Homo sapiens: one gene and its partner. The protein of the gene in region 2 interacts with the protein of the main gene of each other region in a biochemical or structural test. Each region holds a gene or a part of one and is shown on either strand. Other genes may lie near its edges.

Region 1 (4,593 bases), on a different chromosome or scaffold from region 2:
TAATTTTTAAATTTTTTTGTAGAGACAGATGCCTTGCTATGTTGCCCATGCTGATCTTGATCTCCTGGTCTCAAGCAAGCCTTGCCTCAGTCTCTCCAAGTTGGGAATACAGATGTGAGACACTTTGACCAGATTTCTTTTTTGATGTTGAAAAATTATTCCATCTCTTCTGACTTATTGATCCCATGTTCAGTTCAATCAAATCAGAAGATATATTTTCTTTTTTCTTTTCTCCCTTTGCTCTTGTATATCATGAGGAAGAGATCAGAGATACATTGTGGATTTTTTCAGTAGCCTGTTGCTTTTTGGGAAATGAGATTAATGAATGGAGGGACATAGGTGGAAATGTACTGTGCTTAGTGAAAGTAAATGTTTTCAGGTCAGAATTCTTTGCTACACTGTCATACCTTCTTTCCTTAGAGCCATTTTAAGGACTAGGGACACCATGCCTATTTCTTTGAGTTTTTTCTACTTTGTATTTTTGCTGGAGTACTAATTTTTTTTTTTTTTTTTTTTTTTTTACAATTCTTGTTAGTTTTGTCAAGATTTTAAAAAATATTTCACTCTTTAACCTTCACTTCAGTTAATCCTTTTTAAAAATAATACTTATTTTTATTTTTCAGACAGGTTCTTGCTCTGTCTCCCAGACTGTAGTGCAATGGTGTAATCACAGCTCACTGTAGCCTTGAACTCCTGAGCTCAAGTGATCTTCCCACCTCAGCCTCCTGAGTATCTGGGTCTACAGACACACACCACCACACCTGGATACATTTTTTAACTTTTTGTAGAAATGGGATCTTGCTATGTTGCCCAGGCTGATCTTGAACTCCTGTCCTCAAGCAATCCTCCCACCTTAGCCTCCTAAACTGCTGGGATTATAGGTGTGAGCCACTGACCCGGCCAAGTTAATCCTTAGGGTTAGTAATAGTGCTTGAACATGTTAATTGTGCTGGTGGCCCTGCAGTGTTTTTCAAGGGGACCACGTTCTTCTGCATTTTTCACTGTGGTGCTGCATTAGAAGAAGAGTAAAATATGGTTGGTACTCTCTAAGAGTTGTGTTGAAGTAATAGTTCTGTGATGATTTTTTTTCTCGAATTGATAATTCTTCATATTCTATCATTTTTCACTAGTTCTACTTATCACTGGCAAGTAGAACTCGGTGGGTAGGTGGTCCATGAAACTTTAGGCTGTTTCTTATCTATGGACTAGACAAGTTTTGTTTTGTTTTTTTTTTGTTTGTTTGTTTGTTTTGAGACAGAGTCTCACTCTGTCGCCCAGGCTGGAGTGCAGTGGTGCTATCTTGGCTCACTGCAAGCTCCGCCTCCCAGGTTCACGCCATTCTCCTGCCTCAGCCTCCCGAGTAGCTGGGACTACAGGTACCCGCCACCACGCCCGGCTAATTTTTTTTTTTGTATTTTTAGTAGAGACAGGGTTTCACCCTGTTAGCCAGGGTGGTCTCGATCTCCTGACCTTGTGATCCGCCTGCCTCGGCCTCCCAAAGTGCTGGGATTACAGGCTTGAGTCACCGTGCCCGGCCCGGACTAGACAAGTTTTGAGGAACACATTTTTTTTCCCCATAGGAGAGGGTCTTGCTCTGTCACTGAGGCTGGAGTGCAGTGACACAATCATGGCTCACTGCAGCCTTGACCTTCTGGGAGCATGTGATCCTCCCACTTCAGCCTCCTGAGTAGGTGGGACCACAGGTGTGCACCACCGTGGCTGGCTAATTTTAAATTTTTTTTAGAGACAGGGTCTTGCTATGTTGCCCAGGCTGGTCTTTAACTCCTGGCCTCAAGTGATCTTCCTGCGTTGGGCACTCCCCAAGAGCTGGGATTATAGGCATGACCACCATGCCCAGCCAAGGTGGAACACTTTTTAAATTGAATGTGTCATTTGTAATGCATTGGCTGAGGGAACAGTTGGGAGGAGATTAGGTATTTGATTTACAATTCCAAATTCAAACTAGAGATGTTGAATGAGTTTGTAGTAAGTGTAGGTTTTTATCTCTCTTGATTCTGGTATTCTCATTAGCAGAGAATTCTTTTTGTGCTATTATGTACAAGTTACTGTGGATGAAGAATGTAGAAGGAAAAGGGTAATACCGTTTGGGTTTGTAAGGCTGTCATTTAGGAAGAAAATTTTTTTTAGCTAATTTTCACCTATATAACTTAGTTTTAACTGCGTCAATTAACACAATTCTTACCTGTTACCTTTATTTACCTTTTTCAGATATGGGAAAATAGGAATTCATGCAATGTAAAGTTAAGATGTCAAGATATTCTTTTATGGCCAGGTGTGGTGGCTCGTGCCTCTAATCCCTTTGGGAGGCCGAGGCAGGCCGATTGCTTGAGCCCAGGAATTTGAGACCAGCCCGGACAACGTGACGAAACCCCTTTACTACAAAAAATACAAAAAATTTTCCGGGCACTGTGGTGCACTTCTATAGTCCCAGCTACTTGGGAGGCTGAGATGGGAGTATCACCTGAGCCTGGAAAGTTGAAGCTGCAGTGAGCTGTGATCATGCCACTGTACTCCAGCCTGGGTGTTGGAGTGAGACCCTGTCCCCCAACAAAAAAAGAGATAGTATTTTATTATATTGCAAAGGCCTTTTTTTTTTTTTTTTTTTTTTTTTGAGACAGGGTCTTACTGTGTCGCCCAGGCTGGAGTGCAATGGCGTGATCTTGGCTCACTGCAACCTCCGCCTCCTGGGTTCAAGCTATTCTCCCGCCTCAGCCTCCCGAGTAGCTGGGATTACAGGCACCTGCCATCACGCCGGCTAATTTTTTATTTTTAATAGAGACAGGGTTTCTCCATGTTGGCCAGGCTGGTCTTGAACTCCTCACCTCAGGTGATCCGCCCACCTTGGCCTCCCAAAGTGCTGGGATTACAGGCGTGAGCCGCCATGCTCCGCCGCCATCTGTTTTTAAGAATGCTGCCTTGGCCGGGCATGGTGGCTCATGCCTGTAATCCTAGCATTTTGGGAGGCCGAAGTGGGCAGATCACCTGAGGTCAGGAGTTCAAGACCAGCCTGGCCAACATGGAGAAACCCTGTCTCTACTAAAAATACAAAAATTAGCCAGGCATGGTGGCAGGTGCCTGTAATCCCAGCTACTCGGGAGGCTGAGGCGGGAGAATCGCTTGAACCTGGAAGGTGGTGGTTGCAGTGAGCTGAGATCGTACCACTGCACTCTAGCCTGGGCGACAGAGTGAGACTCCGTCTAAAAAAAAAAAAAAAAAAAAAAAAACCACGACTGCCTAATATGCCATAATGACTTTAGTAAGTAGACATCAGTGAATCTTCAGGTTGGAAATATGACAACACCTATCATTTTACACTTAAGGAGACAAACCCAGGGAAAGGAGTGGATAATTAAGTTCCTTCTATATGCCAGGCTGCACTTTCCTATTTTGTTGCTAATCTTTATGTCTAGTCTGTAGCAACTGTCTCCAACTTTTCACATAAACTCTTCAAATTTATGTCACTTTTCATAATTTCGTCAATGTATTTTCTTGTTTTAAAGTTTTTATTATTTTAGATAGTGACCGGGTCTCACTATATTGCCCCGGCTGGTCTCAAACTCCTGGGCTCAAGCAATCCTCCTGCCTCGGCCTCCCAGAGTGCCGGGGTTACAGGTGTGAGCCACCCTCTGAGGCCCATTTTATATTTTCCCTCCACGTTTTCATTGTAGTTGAATGGACAAGTAAGTTTATGGATTCAACAGTATACTTAGGGCTGGACATGGTGGCTCATACCTGTAATCCTAGCACTTTGGGAGGCTGATGTAGGTGGATTGCTTGAGCCCAAAAGTTTGAGACCAGCCTGGGCAACGTGGTGAAACCCCATCTGTACAAAAAAATACAAAAAATTAGCAGGGTGTGGTAGCATTCCCTGTAGTCCCAGCTACGTGGGAGACTGAGATGCGAGGATGACCTGAGCCTGGGAGGTTGAGGCTGCAGTGAGCCATGATTGTGCCACTGCATTCCTGTCTGGGTGACTAGGAGACAGAGTGAGACCCTGTCTCAAAAAACACAACAAAACCAGCATACTTAGGATATAAGTTCCATGAGAGCAGAACTTTTGCTTTCCTTGTTTACCAGAGCATTGCAGTGCTTACAGTGGGTGCCTAGTATGTTGGATTAGAGTTCAATGTATGTTTGTGGAATAAAAATGAATGTAAAACCCACTGTTAATATGAAATACCTTTGAAGGGATAAAACTAATTAAGCCATTGACATCATGAATTTGTACTAACTATAATAATATCTAATATTTATTAGTAATACTTACCAGCTGTTCTCATTTAATTTTTATAACAATCGTATTAGGTAAGTATTATTATTCTTGTTTTACAGATGAGGAAACTAAGGCACAGAGAGTGAATAAGTAACTTGTCTGAAGTCACATAGCTACTAGAAGTTAGAGACAGAATTTTATTGTTGGCAGTCCATCTACACAGTCATCATTCTTAATCTCCAAGTTATGATTTTTTCCATTGTGACTTAGAGTCACCTTCCTACTGAAATATAGTACAATGGATATCTTTTGAGAAGGAGGTAGGTGGAGTATTGTCTTTTTTGTAGATGAAAAGGGTG
Region 2 (5,203 bases):
ATATCAGTTGGTCTACTGAGAACTTTGCCATAAACATATGTGTTCAGAAATTTCCTTTCTTAGCAGCAGCATCCTGAATTGAACAGAATTACACACACATCAGCCCAGTAAGAAACAATTCATGTTAAGTCCATTGCTATGCCAGGATAAATCTTTTAAATCACAATTATTTTTCCTATTTATATTTTGTCAAATAAGAATGTTCTAAAAACCAAAATTTCTGTTTTCTTTTTTTTTTTTTTTTTTTTTTGAGACGGAGTCTCACTCTGTCGCCCAGGCTGGAGTGCAGTGGCGCGATCTCGGCTCACGGCAAGCTCCACCTCCCGGGTTCACGCCATTCTCCTGCCTCAGCCTCCTGAGTAGCTGGGACTACAGGCACCCACCACCACGCCTGGCTAATTTTTTATATTTTTAGTAGAGACGGGGTTTCACCGTGTTAGCCAGGATGGTCTTGATCTCCCGAACTTGTGATCCGCCCGCCTCGGCCTCCCAAAGTGCTGGGATTACAGGCAAAATTTCTGTTTTCATTTAAGGCAGTGACTATTTCCCTTAGGATGTGATTTTTTTATCCTTCTAAGATGAGATCACCATCCTCAGAATAATTTGTACCCTGCTGGGCACTAGCTAATGGAGGTGATGTCATGCTAAGCAGCACTTCAGTGAGTTTTGCGGGAACCAAAGCTCTGCTCCCAGGAGTGTGGATTTGGTGCTTTCATGTGGAAAAAGCGGATGATGACAAGTAGAGAGCAAATGTGCGCATGTCTGATGCTGTAAGGATTTCATCTACCATCATATAAATTTTTAGAAGTATATCAAAATAAACTGATAACTGAGGCAATGTATGTTGTTCAGATACTAATAATGAAGTTAATGAAGTCCACTATAGTATTTGTATAGTATTTGTATATTACAGTACTCTGAAAAGCTGGTCACTATTTAAAGTTTCCATTACCAGTCACAAGGAGAGAATAATTTTATCCCACAATTTTATTGCTGGCAAAAGACACAAGTTTATTAAAAGTCAGTATTTCAGTGTAAGAGTTACTAGACTGTTTGCAGAAGTGTTCAAAAGAGATCTTTAGGTCCTTGGTTGTCTGTGGAAGCTGATCAGCATTTAGGGGTTCCTGAGCACAGACTGTGAACCCTGCATTTGGCACATGCATTCAGAGAGCCAATTTGAGGCAGACTGGGGGCTAGAAAGGATACTGCCAGGAGCTCCAGGTTCAGCTTCCGAAGTTATTAAGTCTTATTTCCCAGTTTTTAAATTAGACTTCATTTTTTAGAGCAGTTTTAGGTTCAAACCAAAATTGAGAAGAACGTACAGAGACATCCTGTATCCCACCTGCCCCCCAACACGTGCGTAGTCTCCCCCATTATCAACATCCTGCACCAGAGTAGTACATTCTTACAAAGGAACCTACACTGACACGTCATCATCACCCAAACGCCATCGTTCACAATCAAGTTCACTCTTGGTGCTGTTTATCCTATGGTTTTGGACAAATTTACAAGGACTTGTATCCACCATTATATTGTCACACTGAGTAGTTTCACTGCCTTAAAAAGTCTCCGTGCGGGCCGGGCACGGTGGCTCACGCCTGTAATCCCAGCACTTTGGGAGGCCAAGGCGGGCAGATCACGAGGTTAGGAGTTCGAGACCAGCCTGGCCAACATGGTGAAACCCCGTCTCTACTAAAAATACAAAAATTAGCCTGGCATGGTGGCATGCGCCTGTAATCCCAGCTACTCAGGAGGCTGAGGCAGGAGAATCGCTTGAAACCTAAAGGCGGAGGTTGCAGTGAGCCGAGACCACGCCACTGCACTCCAGCCTGAGCAAGGAGCGAAATTCCATCTCAAAACAAAAAAAAAAAAAAAAAAAAATTCTCTGTGCTGTCTCCCTCCCTCCTAGCCACTGGCAACCACTGATCTTTTTACTGTCTCCATAGTTTTGCCTTTTCCAGATTGTCAGATAGTTGGAATCATGCGGTATATATGGCCTTTTCAAACTGGCTTCTTTCACTTAGTAATAATGCATTTAAAGTGTTCATGGCTTGCTAGCTCATTTCTTTTTAGTGCTCAGTAATATTCTGTTCTCTGGATATACCACGGTTTATTTATTCATTCACCGACTGAAGGACATCTTAGTTGCTTCTAGTTTTGACAGTTATGAATAAAACTGCTATAAACATCTGTGTGCAGGCTTTTGTGTGAACATAAGTTTTCAACTCCTTTGGGTAAATACCAAAGAGTGCGTATTTACCATATGGCTGGATCATATGGTAAGAGTATGTTTAGTTTTGTAGGAAACTGCCAAACTGTCTTTCGAGTTGGCTGTACCATTTTGCATTTCCACGAGCAGTGATTGAGAATCCCTGTTGCTCCACATCCTCACCAGCATTTGGTGTTGATGGTGTTCTGGTTTTGGCCATTCTGCTAGGTATGTAATGATACCTCATTGTTGCTTTAATTAGCATTTCCCATTATTTGCAGTCTGTGTATCTTTGATGAGGCCCACTGGATTTTCACTTTAGATTTTCTATAGATTGGCCATAAAGTCTTGAAACAAAGATATTTTCTCATGGATTATAATGCAATATCAGTAAACTATTATGTGTTCACCTACGTTTCCAGACTTGTTAGCTACCCTGTACTGTTCTCTCAGTTAATCAAGTTAACCACAATTTGTTTCTCAACCACAGGTGGCTAATGATTTTGTATGTGGTCTGTCCGCTTTGAATTGATGTGCATGGGGCAAGTTGGTCTCTATGATATTCATGGTTCAAGGAAGTTCGAGATTTCCTGGTACCTAATACATGTTTATTGTACATATGAAAGAAAAAAGGGCAGATAGAGGGGAACATGGTACTGAGCATGATAGAGGCAAGGAAGGGTGGCTACTTTGATAGGAGAATACCCCTATTTTTGTCACTCTTGAAACAGGGCCAAGAGTTGAAATTGGCTAGAACAATCCTGACCTTTGTTGATATTATTTTATAGAATAATATTTGTTACTGTTTTCTCACTTTTAAAAAATGCAGATGTTATAGAAAAATTAGAAGATATAGAGGAATGTTAAGGAGTAAATAAGGTGTCAGTAATGCCATCACCCAGACAGCCACTGTTAATAAATATGTTAATATGTGAAGACATACTAATATGTAATATGTACTGAGTGACTAATGGCAGGTCACTTAGTAGCTGTCTCGATTATCAGATCAACTGTCATGGTATGGCAGTGTTTATGTTCAGGTACCCGTATTAGTTATTGTTGTTAATCCCTTTCTGCGCCCAAGTTATAAACTAAACTTTTTCATAGGTATGTACGTATAGGAAAAAATATGCTGCATATAGGCTCAGTACTGTATTTGGTTTCAAGCATCTACTGGGGGACTTGGGAGGTACCCCCTGCCCCTGCCCCACAGGTATACTACTGTATAATTATTCTTCTATCTAAAGTAAGATCTAATGGAAGATAGGAACTTTGTCTTGTCTTCCACTCTGTCCTATTTCCCAGGATGATACCTGGCACAAAGTATTTGTTTACTGACAAACTAAAAGATGATTTATCCCAATTATACTCACATCTTCCCTTGATTTTCCAGAAAGCCTACAGGAAGTAAGATGGTAGAAAAGCAAAGTCTTCGTAGAAATGCAGAGCATAGACTGGCTCTTGGAGAAGGTCAAACATCACCCTCTCCTGTGGTTAAATTGAGATGGTGGCACTGGCTGTCTTCTATATTATTGCTGCACCTTTCCTCACCAGGGGTGCACACAAAACTGGGAGAGAGGGGAGGAAGGAGCTTAGCTTTGTCTTAATAGAAGGGAAGAAATGATGTTTTCCAAGAGACCTTGAAATTGGGGACCTTGGTAAAGGTTTCAGTTTGGGAAGATAAAAAAGTCCTGGGATGGATTCCAACAGTGTAACTGTACTCAATGCCACTGAGCTGTACGCTTAAGAGTGGTAAATTTTATGTCTATTTCACCACAGTTTTAAAGATTAAAATTTTTAAAAGTGGGGGAAGTTACCTAGGACTTTCTAGAAGGACTTTTGAGGGTGAGCAAGTTCTGTTATAGGCTTGTGTATTATTTTGGTATTTCTGATTTTATCATAGGAGTGAGGTTAAAGTTGTATTTTGACTGGAATTTTTGACATTGTCAGGGTTTCTAGAGTGTGGAGAAGGTCACTCAGTATTTTTTGTTTTTGTTTTTTGTTTTGCCTTTGTTCTTGTTTTCCTCTATTTAGGGAGGTGGATTGCCATGGGAAGTACCTTTGCTTCGAAAAGCCAGAAAATGCCTGGTAGAACTCCAGAAAAGTAGTAAGGAGCTGGCTTCTTCAGAGGCAGCATAGCAGAGTGGGAAGAGGGCCCTGTCACTTAGATTGTGACTGTCGACAAAGTCACTTAACCACCAGAAGTTGGGTTTTCTGACGTTTAGAATTTTGAAAAGATTAAAACTGAGTGCCTTGCAAAGTACCTGGTATATATTAAGTGCTCAATAAGTGATAGTTGCTTTGATTCTAAGAACTGGTTCACCTTGTGAGATATAATTGTGTAATGGAAGAATGAAAGCAGAAACTTTAGTTTCTACTTTTACATTTCCTGGGCCATTTTACTACCCTAAATGAGAAGCTGGGCTTCCAAAACCCACTTTAAAAGTAAAGACTAGGCCGGGTGCGGTGGCTCTTGCCTGTAATCCCAGCACTTTAGGAGGCCTAGGTGGGCAGATCACTTGAACTCAGGAGTTTGAGACCAGCCTGGGCAATACAGCGAGACCGTATGTCTACAAAAAATACAAAAATTAGCCAGACATGGTGGTGCATGCCTGTAATCCCAGCTACTCGGGAGGCTGAGGCGGGAGAATTTGAGTCCAGGAGATCGAAGCTGCAGTGAGCCGTGATTGCGCCGCTGCCCTCCAGCCTGGGTGACAGAGTGAGACCCTGCCTCAAAAGAAAAAAAAAAAAAGAATAAAGATTAATGGAGATTTGGAACATCTTGATACTGTATCTTGGGAATCTAAGCATTGTAGAATTGTGTTATGTGAGTTATACCATTGTGGTGGGAAGTTTTTGATTTTTGTTTTAACTGTGTTGAGTTGCAGTTCTTAGAAATGACCCGAGGTGTTGTCTTACAAAAGAAATAAACTGTAATCTGTATCTTGATCTGATGAGGGTATGTAAATATAAAAAATCGAGCTGTATACTTTC

The links.
Region 1: the proteins of CASP3 (region 2) and ARNT form a complex in vitro, tested with the Homo sapiens proteins (one study listed by BioGRID).

Annotation. Positions count from the first base shown.
Region 1 is NC_000001.11:150,869,947-150,874,539, reverse strand, and holds part of ARNT (aryl hydrocarbon receptor nuclear translocator), read left to right. Parts: intron 1-4,593. UniProt on the Homo sapiens protein: Required for activity of the AHR. Upon ligand binding, AHR translocates into the nucleus, where it heterodimerizes with ARNT and induces transcription by binding to xenobiotic response elements (XRE).
Region 2 is NC_000004.12:184,638,708-184,643,910, reverse strand, and holds part of CASP3 (caspase-3 isoform a preproprotein), read left to right. Parts: intron 1-5,203. UniProt on the Homo sapiens protein: Thiol protease that acts as a major effector caspase involved in the execution phase of apoptosis. Following cleavage and activation by initiator caspases (CASP8, CASP9 and/or CASP10), mediates execution of apoptosis by catalyzing cleavage of many proteins.